Homo sapiens: one gene and its partners. The protein of the gene in region 2 purifies or fractionates together with the protein of the main gene of each other region. This does not show direct contact. Each region holds a gene or a part of one and is shown on either strand. Other genes may lie near its edges.

Region 1 (3,500 bases), on a different chromosome or scaffold from region 2:
GAGTGAAAAAAAAGTATGTAAAATAAATGTAGAACCTATTTCTCTTTTTTTTTAAAAAAAATTTTTCTTCCAACTAATATACTTATTTCTTTACCCAGGTGCATTTTTTGGAAAGAACCCTCTGAAAAACTTCCAGCAGTTGAATTTGGCGGGAAATCGTGTGAGCAGTGATGGATGGCTTGCCTTCATGGGTGTATTTGAGAATCTTAAGCAATTAGTGTTTTTTGACTTTAGTACTAAAGAATTTCTACCTGATCCAGCATTAGTCAGAAAACTTAGCCAAGTGTTATCCAAGTTAACTTTTCTGCAAGAAGCTAGGCTTGTTGGGTGGCAATTTGATGATGATGATCTCAGTGTTATTACAGGTGCTTTTAAACTAGTAACTGCTTAAATAAAGTGTACTCGAAGCCAGTAAGTGCTCTGGGACCTCATTATTTTAAGCCTGGTAGTTAAAAAAAATCTTGCAAAAGGATGCCAAAGAAGATAAGGACGTGGAAAGAAGTTTAATTTGATGATTAAAAACATGCAACAGTTTTGTGTCTTAGCTCTCCTACTAGGATTATCGGCGCCTTGAAGGAATTCTCATTCATCTTTGTGTTACCTTTGGTCTGGGTCACACCAACTGGTATACTGAATGCATATTAACTTAGTATAGTGCCTGGCATGTAAGAGATTCTCAACAATATTCTCAATAAATATTCGCTGAATATGAGATAAATTATTAATAGCTACTGAATAAAGAAAGATTATTTAAAACCAGAGAGGAAACTCCATATATGTTCTTTAATCCAAACAGTTTAATTCAAGCAATCTGGAATATAAAAAGCACTTTCTGATATTAGAAGGAGATCAGACTCCCAAAAAAGATCAGCATTCTTTAGTCAAGCAAAACTTGGAAGTTTACAAACAGCTAAATCAGAAGCTTGAAATTCAGGTCCTCTCCAGTACCTGCTACATTATATGTAATTCCAAACATGACTTCAGAGATTAAAGAAGAAAGGGAAGATGTTTCCCATTCTTTTGTACCCTATATAAACTAAGGGTACCCTGCCCTAATCTTTTTTCCAACACTTCCCCAAATAACCCTTCCTTACAAAGAAAGAAGTCTAAGAGAACTCTCTCATCTAAATATATTTAAGTAGAGGCAAGCCTGAAAAAAACACAAAAACCTAAATGGTGTTAGGCTGTGGTTCACCTATTCTCATGGCACCTCAAATTAATGGCTTGGGTGTTGGTGTAGGTAACGCTTGGCCTGTATGTTGAGGTAGTCACTAGATAAAATTCTGGGCACAACATCCGTTTAGCAATTGGGCATACATTCTACAGATTTAGCCATAACGTTTTGAAGCTGATTATTTTACAGATCAACTAATTAATTCCTCTCCCTAACTTTACAGATGAGAAAGCTCAGATGATTTGCCCATGGGTTATAAAACTACTTCCTTACACAGTGGCAGCATCAGAACTGGAATTCAGATCTCTTGCCTCCTAGGCAGTGTTTTTCCTATTATAATATGGTGACTTCGTAAAGCAGGGTTAATTACATTCCACAAAGCTTACATCCTAATCACAAACAATGGGACAAATATTTAAATTGAACTTCTTTCTCTGTCTAGCTTCAAGTGATTCTGTGGCAAGATTTACTAGTAAGGCTGCTGCCTATAGGCCTATGCTGGGCAAGTTCCTTATTTTCATATCCAGAAGTTAGTCAGAGCTTGGCAAATAAGACTTCTCTATATAATAATGCCTGGCCCAATGTCCCCTGTAACATCTTACATGCAGGACGTAGGGCCAATTCTTTCATAACCCACAGGCAACTGTGAGTGTCCTTTCTCAAATAGTGAAGGTAGGTATTAAAGCACCTTTGGTGGGACAGATGCACAGGTGTTGCCTCTGAATTGGTGTTGAGGAAGTAGGCATAAAACCTCACACAGAACTGTGTTTGGTACCTGAACACTTTAAAATCCTATGGGGATGGGGAAGACATGCATGGGGTGGCAGCACATACCTCTTAACCATAACTCAGGACACGGCAGTTCAGATTTCATGCATGACCCTAATTCATATTTAGTTGAGATCAATGGAGGAAGAAGAATCATCCTGTAATAGTAGACCAATAACAGATACAGTAATAGTTGGAAAACATAAGATAAAGGCCAAGGAACAGGTTGCCTTATTACATTTTACGAAGTATCATTTTCCCCAGTAGTCAAGGTAGTGTAGGCTGTATTTCTTTAGCAGGTCACATGCCTGAACAGGGGTTGCAGATGCCAAAGACAATGACCAACTCCTCACTAAGAAAAAGGTATTTAGGACATGGTCACTTATTACCACAGATGACAATTCTGCTTGACAGAGATGGCTTCTTGGATGTTTTTAATCCACAGTGAAGAAAAAGGATTTCAAAGTGCTGCTCCTATTTGAAAGTGAATGAGTTGACTGAAGAAACTGTTGCAAAAGAAAAACAAAAATCTTCTCTAGATAGCTGGCTGATGGCTGGGAAAGTCATAAATCTCCAGGAGCATTGGATTCCAGGAAAGTTAAGTCCATTCTCAAAATCCCATTTTAAAACTGTTATGGAATGCATAATAAAATAAAACAATAAAAAACCCTCCTAGGTCATGTGTGACTGCTGCTTGTTATACTTTTTGGAAGTAATACTAGCCATGTTAGAAAGTCCTTAAACTCTGCATTTGGAAAACAACTAAAAAATAACATAATCTATGTAATTCTCACATTTCATCACAGTTAACAATTTCCCATTTTTGACAAAGCAAAACAAAAAGAAACTGCCCACTGCAGACCTAACAATGCTGTATTCTATAATCTAAGGTCCATTATGCTTTGGTAAAATTATATATGCTCAAATTCTTTGTGCAACTTGAAAAGACATCAAATTCCATATTATGTATGGAACTCCATGTGTTTTGGTAATATATCTGATATATTTTGTTAATAAAATAAGAAATTAAAAAGCCAATGAATGAAAATGTGTCAGGAAAGATAAATTCATTATGTCAGTATTTGATTAAATGTAACATAGAAAATTGGGATTCTTTCACTGCATATCACCAAAAGTTGGGTAGTCACTTAATCAAAATAAAACACTGAGAACCATGGACTATTTACAAATGTACTAAAATTTTTAAAGGAGAGAAACTTTAACAAAAATCTTGATAATTAAAAATTCAAATTGTGCTAGATAGAATGTATTCCAAAATTTCTGCTAAAAATTTTTGCTTTTAGTTTGTAAGACATAATTCAGGAGAACCTCAAAGAAAAATTTAGCAATTAAGTTTGGAAAAGCTATAAAAGAGACTTTTACTTTTTGAACAGACATTTTTCCCTTTCCCAAAATGTGTATTATTCAAGAAGCATATTTATAAATTTCATTAAAGAAAATATCGGCCAGGTGCGGTGGCTCACACCTAATCCCAGCACTTTGGGAGGCTAAGGTGGGTGGATCATGAGGTCAGGAGTTCAAGACCAGCCTGGCCAAC
Region 2 (3,500 bases):
CCCCTGTTTCCCTTTCTGAGGACATGAGACCTTCAGTACTAAAACTGGGGAAGTCTGATGGAAACCATATAGACAAAATGATAATCTCATCCATTGTTGGTAGGATATTTGTGCAACCTTTATCAAAATCTGAGATACAATCACACAATCTACCAGTTTCTTGAATACCCTTCTGGAGATTTAAGTATATATATTTTATTGTTGTTGTCACACAGTCAGCATCATGCCAAGCACATTGTTCTATTTCTTCTTTTCTCATTAAATAATCTTAAATATCCTCCCATGTAAATATCCATTGAATTATATAGCTTGTTTTCCTACTTGGCATCTACCCTACTGTTTTGTTTTGTTTTATGATCATACTAGCAGCACACAAATTCAAAAACAACCCAATACATACACCCATCATTTTTTCCCATTTTTTGTGATAAAATATACATAACATAAAATTTACCATTTCGGCCAGGCGGGGTGGCTCACGCCTGTAATCCCAGCACTTTGGGAGGCCGAGGCGGGCGGATCATGAGGTCAGGAGATTGAGACCATCCTGGCTAACACGGTGAAACCCCGTCTCTACTGAAAATACAAAAAATTAGACGGGCGAGGTGGTGGGCGCCTGTAGTCCCAGCTACTCGGGAGGCTGAGGCGGGGGAATGGCGTGAACCCCGCGGGGCGGAGCCTGCAGTGAGCTGAGATCGCTCCACTGCACTCCAGCCTGGGCGACAGAGAGATTCCGTCTCAAAAAAAAAAAAAAAAAAATTTACCATTTCAACCATTTTTAGATGCCAGTTCAGTGGCATCAAGTATATTCACATGGTTCTGAAACCATCGCGACCATCCATCACCAGAACTTTTTTTTTCTTTTCTTTCTTTCTTTCTTTCTTTTTTCTTTTCTTTTTTTTTTTTTTTGAGACAGAGTCTTGCTGGAGTGCAGTGACACGATCTTGGCTCACTGCAACCTCTGCTTCCTGGGTTCAAGTGATTCTTGTGCCTCAGTCACCCCAGTAGTTGGGATTACAGGCATGTGCCACCACACCCGGCTAATTTTTGTATTTTTAGTAGAGACGGGGTTTCACTATCTCTACTGACCAGTTTGGCCAGGCTGGTCTCAAACTCCTGACCTCAAGTGATCTGCCTGACTCGGCCTCCCAAAGTGCTAGGATTACAGGCATGAGCCACCACGCCTGGCCTATTTCAAGATATCTTTATGAGAAATTCCCAGAAGTGGAATTGCTAGGTAAAATCACTAGGTCAAAGACTGTAGGCATTTCAAATTTTGATAGAAGTTGCACAGATATTACTTCTACCAACTATGCATGAGTTATCTGCTTCTCTATACTTTTCCCATAAGAGACTTTCCCACTTTTAGTAGTCAGGGTTTCATGTCCCCAGAGCTCCTCAGTCCTGGGCAGACAGGGATGGCTGACCACTGTAAATAGTGTGTTATAAATTTTCAAACATGTTTCTGAGTATATAAATCAGGATTGATTTGATTATGCTGTGGTTTAAAAAACAACAACTCAGTGTTCTAAAGAAACAAGTTTATTTCTCATTCAGGCAAAGTCCAGGGGACTCTCCAAGGTGAATGTCCTCCTTCCAGGATACTTTCAATAGTATAGCACTTCTGCGTTGACGCAAACTTTCCTCACTTCCAAAGCAGCCAGGTTGGAACCTTATGCAGAGTCAGTTAAATGCTCCCTCTGGGAAGTGACAGACATCTCTTTTCTTCATTTCTTAGCCAAAGCAAGTTACCCAGCCATGCTTTAATGCATTTCCTATGTGCTCAGAAGTAGAAATCTGAATATTGGTGATCAGTAGTAATCCCTACCATAATGAATATGATAGGTAAAAAATGATATCTCAACAGTTTTAATTAGCATTTTAGTTTTGATTGGCGTGTGATTTTAATATCTATTTTGAGCATATACTGCCCTTTTTTCCTGCAGATAATGAAAAAATAGAAGCTTCACTGAGACGATTAGAAATCAACATGAAAGAAATCAAGGAAACTTTGAGGCAGTGTAAGTTATCATGTGCCCTGCTGTTTCTGATGGCCCCCAAACTAGAAGTCATCAGTTTACTGGGACCCCAGCCTCCCGCTACCCCTGCATTTGTCCATTTTCTGTGCTGGATGGCTGGAAGCAGCCCACAGGTTTGGGGATCCATTCATGGCTAGCCCAGGCTTCTGTCCATGGAATAACATGTGGAGAGAGCTTCTTGACCAGTAAGATACCTTCTAGCAGCTGTCAAAGTACTTAAAAACCTCTATGAATAGAATCAAAGCTTCAGTTCAGTTGCTGAATTTCCAAGAAGAAATTCAAATCAAATTTAAAATGCCCACTCATTCATTCATTCAACAAAACTGTGAGTATCTGGTTTATGCCAGAGGCCATGCAAAGAGGTAACTAAGATGCAGAGAAGGACACTGCCTTCCAGGAGCTCACGGGGTGGAGGAGGAAAGAGGAAAGACAGACAGTGAACACACAACAGCAAGGTTACTGAGCTTGAACTATGTCCCTAACTACTAGATCTGAAATGACTACGCCAGATGCCAGATGCTCAAGTGCCAAGCTCTGGGTAACAGGAATAGACATCCTTCCAGGATGAGAGAGATGAGTCTGGATGAGGGTTAAGGCTGGAGGGACAGGCGGGATTTGAAGAGGAGGGAAAGGAAGTGGATGACACATTCTGTTAACTGTCCAGCTGTGTCTCTACTGGTCACTCAGAGGCACGGGAGCCGCTCCCTTGGGCTGAGTCCATCAGAAGCCCCAGCCACCACCAGCTCTGGTTCATGTAGTAGAGCTTCCCACTCACACATCACAAATATGCCACCTCCCTTAGGACCCCTTCCTCTGCTCATTGACTCTTTTGTCTTCTTTCCTCTCGGGGGTGAGGTCAGATTTACCACCAAAATGCATGCAGGAGATCCCGCAAGAGCAAATCAAGGAGATCAAGAAGGAGCAGCTTTCAGGATCCCCGTGGATTCTGCTAAGGGAAAATGAAGTCAGCACACTTTATAAAGGAGAATACCACAGAGCTCCAGTGGCCATAAAAGTATTCAAAAAACTCCAGGCTGGCAGCATTGCGTAAGTTGTTTTGTGTGGTTCTCTCGTGTGTACCAATACTTACTCTAACTCTCCAAGGAGAGAGGGATATCGTCTCCATTTTTAGATGAGGAAGCCTGGGCCCTAAAGGGTTAAATTATGTGCTCTCCACTGTTAAGGAGCAGAGTCTTGACTTAAATACATCTTTCCACCTCAGTTCTAGGTCTTCTCTCCTTTGTCCACATATATATTTAAAAAAAAAAAACAACTTTCCCTTCCAACCTTGTTTCCCAGTTGCTCATCCCCTCCACAGACAGTAGTTCTAGTGTGTTTTGTTTGTATGTGTTCTTGTAAAATGTATGCATACATTTTTCATGTTCACAACTGGTAGAGTTACGTGTCTGTTGCCTCCTTTCCTCACTTTTTTCACTCAACATCATGAAACGTGTTCCATAT
Region 3 (3,500 bases), on a different chromosome or scaffold from region 2:
AAATCTCTGACTATGCAAACTAGTCAGTGTGATAAGTTTACTTGGTATTTGAACAGTATAATCAAAAGTTATTTATTTATATATTACTGAAATGTATTAGTGACTAGAAAATGAAAACATATTTACCAGTTAAACACCTAAAATAACACTTAACCAAATAATATAATTTATTAGTTTTTAAATATTACTGTATGTACTTGATAGAAATGCCTCCCTTTCCCAATGTATGTTACATAAAATGTTGATATGATAAAAAGGAGCATACTTCAGATGAGTAATAATTTGGCTACATCTGTGTGACTTTATTTAGATATGTATAAAAGGCAAAGTCCACATATTTAAATACCTGAACATACAAGCTTGTAAGATTGCTCCAGATCTGCCGGATTATGATAGGAGACCGTTGGGTTTTGGCTCCTGGTAAGTATATTCTGTCCCTTTATCTATCATATTTTTTGTACAGAGAATCAAATAAAATGGATACTTAAATTTGCCTGAATGTTTGACTAAAGGGAAATAACCTGTTTTAACACTGTTATTCTCAGAATGCTTGTATTGTAAAGTTGATTACCTAGATCTGGCAAAGTCTAGTTCTAAGGGTTTCTCAACCTTGGCACTGTTGACATTTTAGATCAGATAATTCTTTGTTGTGATGGGCTGTCCTGTACATTGTAAGACATTTACCAGCATCCTTGGTGTCTGCCCATTAGATAGATGCCAGTAGTACCCTCGCAAAGTCTCCAAATGTCACCTTGGGGCCCTCCAGTTGAAAACTACTGGTCTGAGTGACTTGAACGCTAACTTTAGCTCTGCTGCTGAGGTAACTAGCCGAAGGCAAGTCATTCCTACTTTTTGAGTTTCATTTTTTCTACAAGGAGTCAAGAGTTGGATTTGTTGACCATTAACATCACTTCAGGATCTTTTAATCTATGAGTCCCTCAGCTACACAGCCTGTGACTTATAAGGTCATCTGCTTGGCAGTCCCAACCATCTGGAACAATCTCTTTTTTTTGAAACAAGGTCTTACTATGTTGCCCAGCCTGGTCTCAAACTCCTGAGCTCAAGCATTCCTCCCACCTCAGCCTCCTGAGTATGGAGCAGTCTTAAGTAGCAAGAATTAAATTCTTAGGCCTTTAAACAAGCAGGATAGATGTTTCAGTCAAAGTGAAGTAATGTTTATGGACTTTACTCAAAAGAGAACCTCTCAGGCCTTCTCTTGAACCTCTCAAATTTTGCTTAAAAGCACAGTCCTAGTAAACTCGCCTCATTGGACGAACAAGAATTGCAGAGGTGTGATTGTTTTGAAGCTGGATAATAATGAGTACATGAGGTCTCATGCTATTCTGTTTGCTTTGTTTCTATTTGGAATTTTTCATATTAAAAAATTAAAGCCCATTTAGTTCTAATAGTTAAGTGACTGCCACATTTCTTGTTTTTTAGAAAATTGATCTGTTTAATTTCAAATTTTAATTGTTAAAATAACAAACTTTGCAGTAACAGAGTCTCTTTTCGGCAGCCATGAAGAACTGTACTCAAGTCGCCCTTATGGAGCCCTTGATTCAGGCTTCAATAGTGTGGACAGTGGTGATAAGAGATGGTCAGGGAATGAAGTAAGTGTTTTTTATGTTCCGTGTGTTATAACACCTGATTAAGAGAAAACAGAATGATGAAAATGAAAAGCGTCTTAACTGGATTCAGTTTCTCACTACATAAAATACAGAAAAGTCAAGGTGGAGGCAAGATTCCCACCCTCTCCAGCAGAATTGGCATTCTGCGTCCTTACCGGCTTTCTGTCACGTGGATTTCCGCCTGTTTCCTCATTGCCTCATGGAAATAGTTTCATATCATAGAAAGGCAAACAGGAGCTGAGCCAGTTGAAACTGAAGCCTACAATCTGAGGTGGGGGGTAATCTCGAGCAGAGGTGCTAGATGGTGAGAAAACAAGTAGGACTTTCGGCTGATGGGTAGAGACAAGGACCTTAGTAAAGAGTATTCATGTGCTCAAGAGGAATAACTTCCTGGCTAATTCTGTCGTTTTTCTCGTTTTTAAATTATTGATATTATGTTTTCTGCTCTTAAAAATTACTGTGTCCACAGAGGTCTACAGAAGAAAAAAAGTAAAAAAATAAATAAAAATTACTAATGTGTAATATTTTAGCTATGCATTAAGTTATTAAGTAAACTTTTGTTAGCAAGACTGATAACCTACTATTTATAACATTGTTTTACTGTGAATTGAAACCAAATTAATTTTAGACCACATCCCATTTGAAATTTGGAATTACTTGTGTTTGTATGTCTTGGTGGGTGGGTTCATAAATGTGGCTGTATCAATACAGATATATATGTAGATATTTTAAATCTATATATATATAATTTATGGAGTCATGAATCTTTTATATTTTTTGAGACAGAGTCTTGCTCTTTCACCCAGGCTGGAGTGCAGTGGCACGACCATGGCTCAAGCAGTCCTCCCACCTAAACCTCCTGAGTAGCTGGGACTACAGGCTTATGCCACCATGCCTGGCTAATTAAAAAAAATTTTTTTTTAGAGACATGCTCTCCCTATATTGCCCAGGCTAGTCTCAAACTCCTGGGCTTGTCATTCCCATCTTGGTCTCCCAAAGTGTTGGGATTATAGGCATCAGCCACCACTCCAGACCAGATTTTTATTTTTTTGAAATAGGATCTCGCTTTGTCGCACAGGCTGGAGTGCAGTGGTGGAATCCTGTCTCATTGCAGCCTCGAACTCCTGGGCTGAAGCGATCGTCTCGCCTCAACATCCCAAGTATTAGGATTACAGGCATGTGTGAGCACATCTAGCTAATTTACTCCTGGCCTCAAGTGATCCTCCTGCTTTGGTCTCCCAAAGCGCATGGATTACAGGCATGATCTGCCAGGCTCTAAAATGATTGTTTTTAATGTTTCTGCTTCTTTTTTAAGCCTACAGATGAATTTTCAGATCTGCCTCTTCGAGTAGCAGAGATTACTAAAGAACAAAGACTACGAAGAGAAAGCCAGTACCAAGAGAACCGCGGCAGTTTGGTAGTAACAAACGGCGGAGGTAAACATAATTCCGGTGACAGCTAAAGTGTTTGCAACCATTTAACTTTTTAAAGTTGTCTTTTTCATACCCACTCCTTTTGTTGGTGTATCTATAGCTTCTTCACTCTTCTTTTAAAGACTTCTTTTCATATATGATTGAAAAATACTATTTTCCATTGGGATGAAACTATGATTTCTGGTTTCAGTCAGAGTTAAAATACACTATTTCTCCCTTGTTTTTATTTTGGGAGGAAACTTTATTAGAGACAGTACACCTGGAGCAGATCTTTGTTAATCTGGATTTAATCACGACCTTTTGAAGTAACATTCTCCCTTTTTAAGATTCTTGCTGTGGTCATTATTTGATCTCTTTTAGGAATTTAGTCCTTTTTTTTTTTTTTTTCAGTGTTTACCTTTTCTTCACCTGGAATTGTCAGATGCTCTTCAAAGTCATC
Region 4 (3,500 bases), on a different chromosome or scaffold from region 2:
CCAAGATCACGCCACTGCACTCCAAACTGGGCAACAGAGCAAGAACTCGTCTCAAAAAAAAAAAAAAAAAAAATTAGCCATGGACCAGCAATTTCACCTCTCAGAATGTATCCAAGAAGACAACAACAGATATAAACAATGATTAATGTAGAAGGATGTTTATCAAAGTATTATTTATAAAAGCAAAATTTTAAAATTATAAAGAAACCCAAAAGAAGGACTCCTAACTGCTAGGGAGTGGAGGCACAGAATAAGGTGGAAATTTCACGTGTATCTTAAAGGATGAGAGGGAGTTTGCTTCAACAAAGATGGAAATGGCATCAGGAGGGCTCAGGACAGAGAGGAGCTTATATGCGCTTTAACCCAGACACTGGGGAGTCATGGTGTCTAGACAGTGCAAGCCAGAAACCAGAAAGAGGGAGGAAAAAAAAGAGAAAGACTCCTTACTCCTCCAGGACCAGGAGGCCCAATTAGAGCAGTTTGGCACCCCAAATGAGAACAGGGTAAGCTTCATGCAGTGCTTTTCAGACTTCACTATGTGTACAAATTGCCCAGATTTGTTAAAATGCAGATCCTGACTGGATAGGTCTGAGGCAGGACCTGCTTTTCTAATGAGCACCCAGGTGAGGCTCATGTTGCTGGTCCTCAACCACACTAAGCAGCGAGGGCCTGGAGCTAACACAAAGAAGCCATTCCCACACACTTCCCACCCCCAGAAAGGGTCTACAGGCTAATGGAGAACCAGAACATGCTATTTCGGGAGGGAAAACAGAACAAAAAACTGTACAGCTGCGACTGTGTCAAGTGACAAACCTGAAGTTCGGAGGCCAATGGTTAAGGGGTACAGGGAATCCCAAGAATGTTACAGGTTCTCTCATCCAACCCTGGTCCCAAAAAGCAAGGTGAGAAATCCTGAGCCTGGGTATTCAGCACACGCACAATGTGATTCCTCAAACATTTGATAAGTACTTCCCAGGCCAGGCACTGGAAATACCAAGAGCTCCCAGTGTAAAATCAGAGAGCTGGCCAGGCACGGTGGCTCATGCCTGTAATCCCAGCAGTTTGGGAGGCCGAGGAGGGCGAATCACCTGAGGTCAGGAGTTCAAAACCAGCCTTGACCAACATGGTGAAACCCTATCTCTACTAAAAATACAAAAATTAGCTGGGCGTCATGGCATCTGCCTGTAATCCCAACTACTAGGGAGACTGAGGCAGGAGAATCGCTTGAACCCAGGAGGCAGAGGTTGCAGTGAGCCGAGACCGCGCCATTGCACTCCAGCCTGGGCAACAAGAGGGAAACTCCATCTCAAAAAAAAAAAAAAAATCAGAGAGCTTATCAGCACGAAAATGGTCTCAAAACAAGACACCTCAGGGATAATTTGGGACTTTGAGGACAGTGGTAAGATAAGGCTAGATCAGACCTAAAGCCAAGAGCTTGGTTCAGCAGTGGGGAGTTCTCAGGAAATCACCAATCAATAAAGTAATTTAAGGCACAGGTCTAATTTTTGGAAACTGCAACCCTTGTGTTATAGGTGTGTAATAACACCTCACAGTGTGGACAAAGATTTAAATGACTGAAAATGGTAAACTTTCACATTACTTCCTAGTGCTTTTAGCTGAACAAATGAAAGTGAGAGACTTTTTTTGAGACAGGGTCCCACTTTGTCACCCAGAATGGAGTGCAGTGGCACAATCACGGCCCACTACAGCCTTGACCTCCTGGTTCAGGTGAACCTCCGACCTCAGCCTCCCAAGTAGCTGGGACTACAGGCGTGCACCACCACACAGGCTAATTTTTTGTAATCTTTTTATAAAGACAGGGTTTCGCCATGTTGCCCAGGCTGCTTTCAAACTCCTGGACTCAAATGACCCGCCCCAGCCTCCCAGAGGGCTGGGATTACAGGTGTGAACCACCGTGCCCAGCCAAGAGACTTTTTAACAGCTCCATACTTTCCTTCTTCAGGTAACTACAAAATGATCTAGCCAGTCCATTCCAGACCTGATTCCCTTTTCTTTAAAAGTTAGACTTTGATTCAGATACAGATCCAGATGCCCAGTTCTCTGCATCATTTCAGTAACTCATGTGACGTGGCAAAACGAGGCCTAAAGTGTGTGTTTATCTAAGAATGTATGCATGTCCCCAGAAATGGTGCCAGGCCCCACCTGTGAGCAGTCTTGCTGCTGACGGCCATGCCTACAGACAGCCAAGAATCTATGTAGTCTGGGCTATTTTCCTCAACAATGGTGCCCTATAAGGAATATGGCAACAGAAATGGATGGTAAGAATGCGTGTTTCTCCAGTAGCCCTCAAGAGAAAGGGTAACTATCTGGGACTGGTACAATAAACCCCATGGGAGGGGCAGTCTGTCTCTATAGAGGAGGTGGCTTTTTGGGGCAACCTACGTTGCTGATGCTCTCTTAAGGGATTACAAGTGGGGCAAGGGAGAAGGGGGAGGATGGGCCCCAAACAGAGCAATTGATACCTTTGCAGAGGGGTGAGGGATAGAGTGAGATCTATCAGGGGCACTTTTACTTTACTGGTATCATTTGAATTTTTTATAATGAGAATATATTCAAACATTACCTGCATAATTAAAAATAAATTTTAAAAAGCATGATCAAAACAACTCCACAAGCCCCTTTGCATGTATCCCATATTCACCAAACAAACCTGATTGCATTCGCCAAGACCTTCCAGCAGAAAGAAAATAAGTTCCAGATTCTAGTCCACTTAGAGATATGTTTCTTGGTAAAAATTAAAGCTGCACTGTGGCCAAGTGCAGTGGCTCAAGCCTGTAATCCCAGCACTTTGGAAGGCTGAGGTGGGAGAATTGCTTGCGCCCAGGAGTTCAAGACCAGTCTGGACAACGTTGTGAGACCCCATCTCAATTTTTTTTTTTAAAAAAAGCTGCATTGTGAGTTTGATCCCTCTGACCCCAAACACTCCTCCCAAACAGGTCCCTCTCTCACCCTGCCACCACAGGTGTCTTTCTGGATCTCACCTCTATACCCTCCCCTGCCCAAGGATAAAAATCTCCACAACTTAGCAGGGCATGTGTAGCCTTGCATGCTCCATAGGCTGGCCTCATCTCTTCCTGTTCCCCACAACAGTCACACTAAATCACAGTCTTGTCCTTCTCTGTAAGCTCACACCTCCTGGCTGACCATCCTGCTACTCCTCCTGGAATACTCTTTCCCTCTTCTCTGCTCTTGAAGTTCTGCCTTGGGACTTGGCAAGGCATCAGCCTCCACCCCTAGATGGTGTTCCCTGAGCCTGGCCCAAAGCTGAGAGCTAGGGGGTGTCCTTGCTCTGGGCTTCCATGTTGTACGGCGCTTACCTAGTATGAGAGGTTAACACTGTTAACCTCTCCACGGGTTAATCCTGTATCCTTAGCACCTGTCCCATAGCAAACACTCCATAAGTATCTGTTGCCAAAACTGAATGAAGTTTCGTACCCAAGGTCCTGATACACCACACTCAGAAAATTGAGTATCTGAAC

The links.
Region 1: the proteins of MLKL (region 2) and SLC30A6 purify together in Homo sapiens (affinity purification with mass spectrometry, with the first as the bait; one large-scale study listed by BioGRID). This does not show direct contact.
Region 3: the proteins of MLKL (region 2) and LRCH3 purify together in Homo sapiens (affinity purification with mass spectrometry; one large-scale study listed by BioGRID and IntAct). This does not show direct contact.
Region 4: the proteins of MLKL (region 2) and PARP16 purify together in Homo sapiens (affinity purification with mass spectrometry; one large-scale study listed by BioGRID and IntAct). This does not show direct contact.

The regions. Positions count from the first base shown.
Region 1 is NC_000002.12:32,221,364-32,224,863, reverse strand, and holds the end of SLC30A6 (zinc transporter 6), read right to left. Parts: 3' UTR 485-3,500; downstream 1-484. Other genes in the region: NLRC4 (NLR family CARD domain-containing protein 4), read left to right, coding at 99-391. UniProt on the Homo sapiens protein: Has probably no intrinsic transporter activity but together with SLC30A5 forms a functional zinc ion:proton antiporter heterodimer, mediating zinc entry into the lumen of organelles along the secretory pathway.
Region 2 is NC_000016.10:74,690,863-74,694,362, reverse strand, and holds part of MLKL (mixed lineage kinase domain-like protein), read left to right. Parts: intron 1-1,946; coding exon 1,947-2,021; intron 2,022-2,899; coding exon 2,900-3,086; intron 3,087-3,500. UniProt on the Homo sapiens protein: Pseudokinase that plays a key role in TNF-induced necroptosis, a programmed cell death process. Does not have protein kinase activity.
Region 3 is NC_000003.12:197,829,254-197,832,753, forward strand, and holds part of LRCH3 (DISP complex protein LRCH3), read left to right. Parts: intron 1-310; coding exon 311-420; intron 421-1,511; exon of another isoform or gene 1,512-1,516; coding exon 1,517-1,610; exon of another isoform or gene 1,611-1,644; intron 1,645-1,783; exon of another isoform or gene 1,784-1,970; intron 1,971-2,021; exon of another isoform or gene 2,022-2,101; intron 2,102-2,943; coding exon 2,944-3,064; intron 3,065-3,500. UniProt on the Homo sapiens protein: As part of the DISP complex, may regulate the association of septins with actin and thereby regulate the actin cytoskeleton.
Region 4 is NC_000015.10:65,280,384-65,283,883, forward strand, and holds part of PARP16 (protein mono-ADP-ribosyltransferase PARP16), read right to left. Parts: intron 1-3,500. UniProt on the Homo sapiens protein: Intracellular mono-ADP-ribosyltransferase that plays a role in different processes, such as protein translation and unfolded protein response (UPR), through the mono-ADP-ribosylation of proteins involved in those processes.